Homo sapiens: one gene and its partner. The protein of the gene in region 1 purifies or fractionates together with the protein of each later gene. This does not show direct contact. Each region holds a gene or a part of one and is shown in the gene's direction. Other genes may lie near its edges.

What was found.
Region 2: the proteins of KIF15 (region 1) and DMD purify together in Homo sapiens (affinity purification with mass spectrometry; one large-scale study listed by BioGRID and IntAct). This does not show direct contact.

The regions. Positions count from the first base shown.
Region 1 is NC_000003.12:44,796,165-44,799,992, forward strand, and holds part of KIF15 (kinesin-like protein KIF15), read left to right. Parts: intron 1-1,386; coding exon 1,387-1,512; intron 1,513-1,669; coding exon 1,670-1,792; intron 1,793-3,030; exon of another isoform or gene 3,031-3,124; coding exon of another isoform or gene 3,125-3,127; intron 3,128-3,828. UniProt on the Homo sapiens protein: Plus-end directed kinesin-like motor enzyme involved in mitotic spindle assembly.
Region 2 is NC_000023.11:32,340,496-32,344,323, reverse strand, and holds part of DMD (dystrophin), read left to right. Parts: intron 1-1,037; coding exon 1,038-1,190; intron 1,191-1,473; coding exon of another isoform or gene 1,474-1,482; exon of another isoform or gene 1,483-1,957; intron 1,958-2,041; coding exon 2,042-2,224; intron 2,225-3,828. UniProt on the Homo sapiens protein: Anchors the extracellular matrix to the cytoskeleton via F-actin. Ligand for dystroglycan.

The DNA.
Region 1 (3,828 bases):
AAGCTCATATTTCTATTGAGATATGAGGCTTAATAAATATAGCATATGGGTTGAGCATGGTGGCTTATGCCTGTAATCCTAGCACCTGGGAGGCTGAGGTGGGAGGATCCCTCGAACCCAGGAGGTCGAGATTGCAGTGAGCTGTGATTGTGCCACTGTGCTCCAACCTGGGTGACAGAGTGAGACTCTGTGTCAAAAAAAGCATATGCTTATAATAGGACATATACCAAGTCTGTTCTAAAATGCTTTACATATATTAATTCATTTAACCTTCCCAACAACTCTGGGAAGTAGGTGCTATTCTTTCTATTTTACAGTTAAAGAAACCGAAGTCACACAGCTAATAAAGGTAGAGCTGAGATTCAAACCGAGCTGCTACAGTACTCTCAACCATGCCACTAACCACCTTTCTGATTTACTGAATGATAACAGCAGTGACTCTGAATTCAGTACATCTTGCATTATAATTTTGACTTTTTCTCTTTTTTGTATACTCCTTCCACTGCAGACCCAGTTTTCAAAATATGCTACCTACAGTAAAAATCTAATGTAACGTATTTAGCTCATTTTTTCCCCCCACCAAGCTTCTGTTTTAAAGTAGTTTTTATTATCCTTTACAGAATTAAACTGAATATTCTCCTCAAATAAGTTCATCAGTGGCTTTGGGGGCTGTATGGGTGAGTTATTAGGCATTATACCCTTAAATATTTTAGCATAAAAGGATTGAAAAAAGTACCTATTAATGCACTACTCTAGCTTTTTTTTCCCTATTTTTTTCTGGTCTTTATAGCTCGGTTTCAAACTATTACAATCATGAAGTGACATTAATATTTTTTTTCTTTGCATGATTTTTGTGTTTGTCTTTTTTTGTTGTTGTTTTTGAGAGAGGGTCTCACTCTGTCACCCAGGTTGTAGTGCAATGGCACAATCTCAGCTCACTGCAACCTCCACCTCCCAAGCTCAAGTGATCCTCCCACCTCAGCCTCCCAAGTAGCTGGGACTACAGGCATGTGCCACCATGCCCAGCAGTTTTTTGTATTTCTTTGTAGAGATGGGGTTTTGCCATGTTGCCCAGGCTGGTATCCAACTCCTGAGCTCAAGCAACCTGCCCACCTCGGCCTCCCAAAGTGCTGGGATGACTAGCATGAGCCACAGTGCCAGCCTGTGTTTGTCTTCTAATACTAAAATTACAGTGTACATCAAATAGGAAAAGGTTAGGGATAGTTCAGCACTTCTTTTTTATTTGTTGAATAGTTGTTCTTTATTAACATTGTCCCTGACTTGCCTTTTCATCCAGAATTTTCCTCTGCTAGATATATTTTCATTCAAAATACCAAAGAGTAACCAACGTACCTAAATTTTTGTTCTTTTCCGTCAACACTTTAGGAAGCAGGTAACATAAATCGATCATTGAGCTGCCTGGGCCAAGTGATTACAGCACTTGTCGACGTGGGTAATGGAAAACAGAGACATGTTTGCTACAGAGACTCCAAACTTACCTTCTTACTACGGGTAAAGTAGATCCTTGGGTTCCTGGGCTCCTTTTGGTTATGCTAAAGTTGATAGTGGGACAGTCTCTCAGCCTTGGTGGCAAGAGTATACATTTTCTTTGCTTAAAAAGGTCTTGTGATTTCTCACCGAAAATATGTTCATTCCTATCATTAAACAGGATTCCCTTGGAGGTAATGCCAAAACAGCCATAATTGCAAATGTTCATCCTGGATCCAGGTGTTTTGGGGAAACCCTATCAACACTTAACTTTGCTCAAAGAGCCAAGCTGATTAAAAACAAGGTAAAATACTGGCGTATACTTCATTAAATAAATGAGAAAAATACTAAAGCTTACAGTATGCCATTTTTGTGATTGCCCTAATATTAACATTAACTTTTATTTATTTCTCATTGTATGCAAAATTTCTATTTTATCTTTCCTACCCTTCTATATCACACATGTAATTAGAGACCTAGGTTAGATCTTATGGTTGTTATTGCTTGACTAGTTTTTTCTTTTTTTTTGAGACACAGTCTTGCTGTGTCACCCAGGCTGGAGTGCAGTGGTGCAAACACAGCTCACTCTAGCCTCAACTTCCTGGGCTCAAGCGATCCTCCTGCCTCAGCCTCCTGTGTAGCTGGAACTACAGGCATGCAGCACCATGCCAGGCTAATTTTTTTATTTTTTTAATTTTTATTTTATTTATTTTTTATTTATTTATTTTTTTGAGACAGAGTCTTGCTCTGTCACCCAGGCTAGAGTGCAGTGGTGCGATCTCTGCTCAGCTGGGACTACAGGCGCCCACCACCACGCCCGGCTAATTTTTTGTATTTTTTAGTAGAGACGGGATTTCACCGTGTTAGCCAGGATGATCTCGATCTCCTGACCTCGTGATCCGTCTGCCTTGGCCTTAATTTTTTTATTTTTTGTACAGGTAGGATCTCACTTTGTTGCCCAGGCTCGTCTCAAACTCCTAGGTTCAAGCAGTCCTCCTGCCTCATCCTTTCAAAGTGCTGGGATTACAGGTGTGAACCACTGTACCCAGCTGACAAATTTTTTCTTAAGGGAAAGCAAATTAAGTATGTGAGTCTTTCTTCCTGCCAACAGCCAATCAATCAGTTCTGCAGCAGACATCAGCTGAGTGTCTTCTGATTCAGTTCCATCCTGACACTTTATGTCTGGAGATAGGGTGAGATCTCACAGGTTCAGGGCTCAGTCCTACAAGACTGCGCCCAACTTCTGATGCCAATTGCAAGCCCCAGCTTGTCCTATCTGTGCTTTCAGACCAACTGGCTGTAAATCAGGAGGTCCATGTTGCCCCTTTCCCTGGGTAAATCAGAAGACTATAGATCTAGTCATTTATTTTATTTCCTTGGACTATGGAGTACTAGTAAGATGAGGAGGAAAAATCATTAGAGCTTCCTGACCCTAAGTCTCTTAAGATTTACTAGAAGTCTTTGGAGATATAGAACTGCAGCAATAATTAGAATTATGAAGTCACTGATGGGACAGTGATGTCAGAAGTGCAGTAGTACCTTGTAATGAGGCTGGCCATAAGAATCAGAAGCAACTGGAAATGGCTGCTTAACACACAAAAGAACAAAACCAAGAGCCTTCTACTAGTCACTCTCAATGGTAAGCCCTTTGCAGCCTATCAGTGGAAAGTGCCAGAGTATCTGGGACTTGTTTAAGGATGTGCTATTTAAATTTTTCCGTGAGCAAATTGGGCTTACAGCGAGAATACAGAAGACCTTGGGGCTGTCACAGGGTGTTTTTTCCTTGCTGGAGTACTGAGTATTTCACAACTGAGTCCTCTGACCTGGTTGGTACTCAGCTGTTGGCACTCGTTATCACCCTTTAGGCTTTGTGGACCTTTTTAAAGCTTTATTTTTTTAATTAATCAACTTTTTTTTTTTTTTTGAGATAGAGTCTCGCTCTGTCAACAGGCTGGAGTGCAGTGGCGCACATGTGTGACCTGCCCCACTCTTGACATCCTGCCCCACAGTGGCACATTTTGTTTGTGAGTCCTTTAGCCTTTTAGAAGTTGTCCTAAATAAGACATTTCTTTAAGAAAATGAAGATAATCATTTAGTGTGGTAAAAAATTAAAAAAAAAAAAAAAAAGGAAGTGTCAAACCAACCCCTCCTTCCAAGAGGGCTGTTAAAAAATAAAGGTCGGATTCCTCTGGAGAAGGTTGCTTCTGCCAAGCTCAAGCCCACCCTGCAAGTCATCATGCACTTAGAGGCTAGGCTCCTTCCCCGTAGGGAGCTAGGAAAGAAGGGAAATGATACTCACTGAGGTATTGGCTCTTCTCCATTGGGAGGGTGGGGGAAGGC
Region 2 (3,828 bases), on another chromosome or scaffold:
GTCCTTATGAAATATTTTAGAGAAGGTCAAAATTTTCCAATGGAATGAAATTTTTAGAAATTCCCTGATATTTATTATTTTTTCGCTCGAATTAAACCTGTGAATAAAACCCTAATTGCTACTTTCTGTAGAAATGAAAGCTGCATGCAGAGCTTATGTTCCCATGAATTATAAAATGGCATTTTGAGTAATTCTATTAATCACAGAAGATATTGAGTGTGCTTGTAAAGAGCATGATGACTGATTTCCTCCCATTGTTGATTTATTAAATTAGTCTTATCACATTGATTTGAAAGCATGCACTTGCTGTTTTCTTTTTTCAAATAGTTAATTGTTTTGCATTTAGAGCATGATTTGGTATAGTAAGATAAATGTGGCTATGCAAGCCTTGGAAGGAGAAGCATTTATCTCACATAATTTTTTATTAGTTATGTTCACCAATATACGAACAGTGGTGACACTTCTACACATACAGCTTGGAACAGTTTATAAGACAACTAAAATGGCTTTATATTTCTAATCATAAAATATTAATGGCCTATGAAACTCTTATGTAGGCATTTCTAAAAACATGAATGTATATTGGTTGAGTACATAAAGTTTTGTTGATGAGCCCCAAGGCTAAAGATATACATTTTAGAATTTTACCTATTTTAAGTCAGATACAAACTCACTAGGTTTGTGAGTTTGTATCTAGTTAAGTCAATTGTATTCGTATATTAAACTCTTGCACATAAACTACACAACAGTTAGCTCATTAAGAGTCAATTGAATGTGACAAAATTTTTAAGCAAGTTTGAACATGCTAAGAGAAAATACTTTAAGTGTGTTATTCAGGTTTCTTAGCTTCCTATACATGGGTCCCGCCTCATGCATAGGCAATTTAATTATGTCTTTGTATATTTTGCATTTAAATATGATTTTAACCTAAGTTGTACAAAAAGATGAGGGACGCAAATTATTTTGATAAATAACTGCAGCCAGAAGTGCACTATACATATATATTGATATTTTAATAATGTCTGCACCATGAACAGGATTTGAGGTCTCAAAGAAGAAAAAAGGCTCTAGAAATTTCTCATCAGTGGTATCAGTACAAGAGGCAGGCTGATGATCTCCTGAAATGCTTGGATGACATTGAAAAAAAATTAGCCAGCCTACCTGAGCCCAGAGATGAAAGGAAAATAAAGGTAATGTTGTTTTAGAATGTCAATACCAGATTTTATTATACAGTTTAATTAACCTGTGAAGATCATATTTAAAATGTTGATGTTCTTGTTTCTATTAACGTTCTCTTTGATTTGATGCATTTCCTTGTATTGTGTGTTGTTTTCAGTAAATGTATTGTATTAAGTGTTATTCAATTGACGTAATGTTGAATGAATAAAATGTTTTAGACTATGTAAAGTGATTTAAGAAATGTGATGTGTTTTCTGGTAAAATTGTAATTGACTTTGTGTATCTTTGTTCCAGATGAACTAATGACTTATCGGTATATGGACGACTTCTTACTCATGTTAGCCCATTCATTTCATCAGAGCATCTTCACACATCAGTGTTCACTCTCTATAGATTTATTTGCATATTGTCTAAATATGTTTTTTTCTGTTATTATTTTACACTTTTTATTTTGCTTCATTCTCTGTTGAGTTCCTCAAACCTTTAAAAAGGAAATAAATAACTTATTCACTTACCCTCTAAATTATATTCTATGTGGACGGTCCCTAATAAATAATGAGTTATCACTCCAAATTGTTTCAAATCCCAAGACACCAGAGGAATTTAGAAGAAAGAAAATGTTAGACCAATTTCAATATTTACTTAATTAGAATATCTAAAACCAAGCATTCAAAGGATAACTGAAATAATATTTGGGTTATTGAGCGAGGATGACAGTCATGCCTTTCATATTTGTAAACTTCAAAGGATGACAATAAAGGGACAACAGCCTTTGAAATTTTGAGAGAAGTATTTGCTGCTTGCAAGTCGGTTGATGTGGTTAGCTAACTGCCCTGGGCCCTGTATTGGTTTTGCTCAATAGGAAATTGATCGGGAATTGCAGAAGAAGAAAGAGGAGCTGAATGCAGTGCGTAGGCAAGCTGAGGGCTTGTCTGAGGATGGGGCCGCAATGGCAGTGGAGCCAACTCAGATCCAGCTCAGCAAGCGCTGGCGGGAAATTGAGAGCAAATTTGCTCAGTTTCGAAGACTCAACTTTGCACAAATTGTGAGTTGTTACTGGCAAACCCACGTATGTGTTTGCAACTACTACTCTATTAACAGAGGCCTACTAATAAAAAAAAAAGAGACAAAAAATCTGGGTACAGTTTTAAACTTCTAATGTACATTCTGAAAGTGAGTGGTTTCCCTCACTTTGGGCTTCTGTAACACTAGTGCTTAATTTTGCCAATTAAAGACACAAGAAATTAACAGATAACAGGGAAAACCCCTTATCAAAAATGAAAATACATCTTAATTTTTTTTGCTACATCATTTTTCATAACATTGGCAATGTTAATTTGTCAATTTATCATACATTCACTTTACTTCAATGTCTAATCCAAAAAATATGTATTGCTTTCCTGAGATCATCCCATGCTGATTTTACTTTCTTAATGTATACATGATAAATAATAAATATTTCATGGTACATCTTATGTCAACCTGCATAAGCCATTATCTCATTGACTTGAAGAATAATAGCTTAATCCTCACACCTGGTTTAACTACTTAATGGGTTACAGTGCCCATAAAAGAACTGGATGCCTAGTAAGATGGTTGCTAATTGATTGCAGATTGAACAATATCAGATAATGTTATTACTGAAATGTTACCAGCCAAAACAAAAAGGAGTGACTGCTCTTCTTTCAAACAACTGAATGGAAAGTGTATGGTTCTCTCTTTAAAAAGGCGATTCAGAATTGTTAGCTTGGTCTCACTTCTTTATTTGTAGTAGGTATAAACCATAGAGGTTTTCTGACAGGTACATTTTTGTTCCTATTATTAACACTTGTAAGATGAAGAGGAATGATCATCATCTGTAATTATAGAAGAAAGTACTCCTCACAAAACCAGGATGTCAAAATCTGGAAACTAAGTCTTTATAGTTAAGTTAGGTTGAATTATATGAATCAAACAGATACTCAACCATTTTGCCCTATGTAAATAATAACTGCATAGGGTTCAGCCCATGTATGAGACTTCTTGGGAACTTCTTCTGTGATAGTGTCAGTTCCATTTAATTTGGTGTATATTTTTAAAATGTCAAAAGCAGTTACCATAACTTAATTTTATAAGCATATAAGGGAAGTATGTTGCATATTATTGTGACTTCTTTTAATACTTCAAGAAAATTAATAAATACACTGTTTTCTGTTAAATCTAATACCCTAAAGTTTAATAGCAGGTGAATTATTCTGAGCAATTGGAAGAATACGAGAAATAGCGAAACTGTATTGCATGTGAAGTCTAATTCCACCTGGCTGAATGTTTCAGCCTATTATCCTTCATATTAGATGTTATGAATGTAATGTGTCATAAATAACCTTACACTAACCAGCAAGCCTGTGTCTGCAGATGCAAAATGAAGCGAAAGATTAAGGCAATCAAAAAGAAAATTCTAATAAAATAGTTTCACCTCAATTTAATAGATCATTCAAGGGGGAGTCCTTTGCTTTGAATTATCTGACTACTAACTCATTTCTCCATTCCAATTTTCCCCAGGTCTTGACACACCCAATATGCAGGTTTAAAATTCGTTACAAACTAATCAAGTTGCTAATGCTTTATGGCTAAATAGGCACAGGATCAAAAATCTCCATAAACCACTTA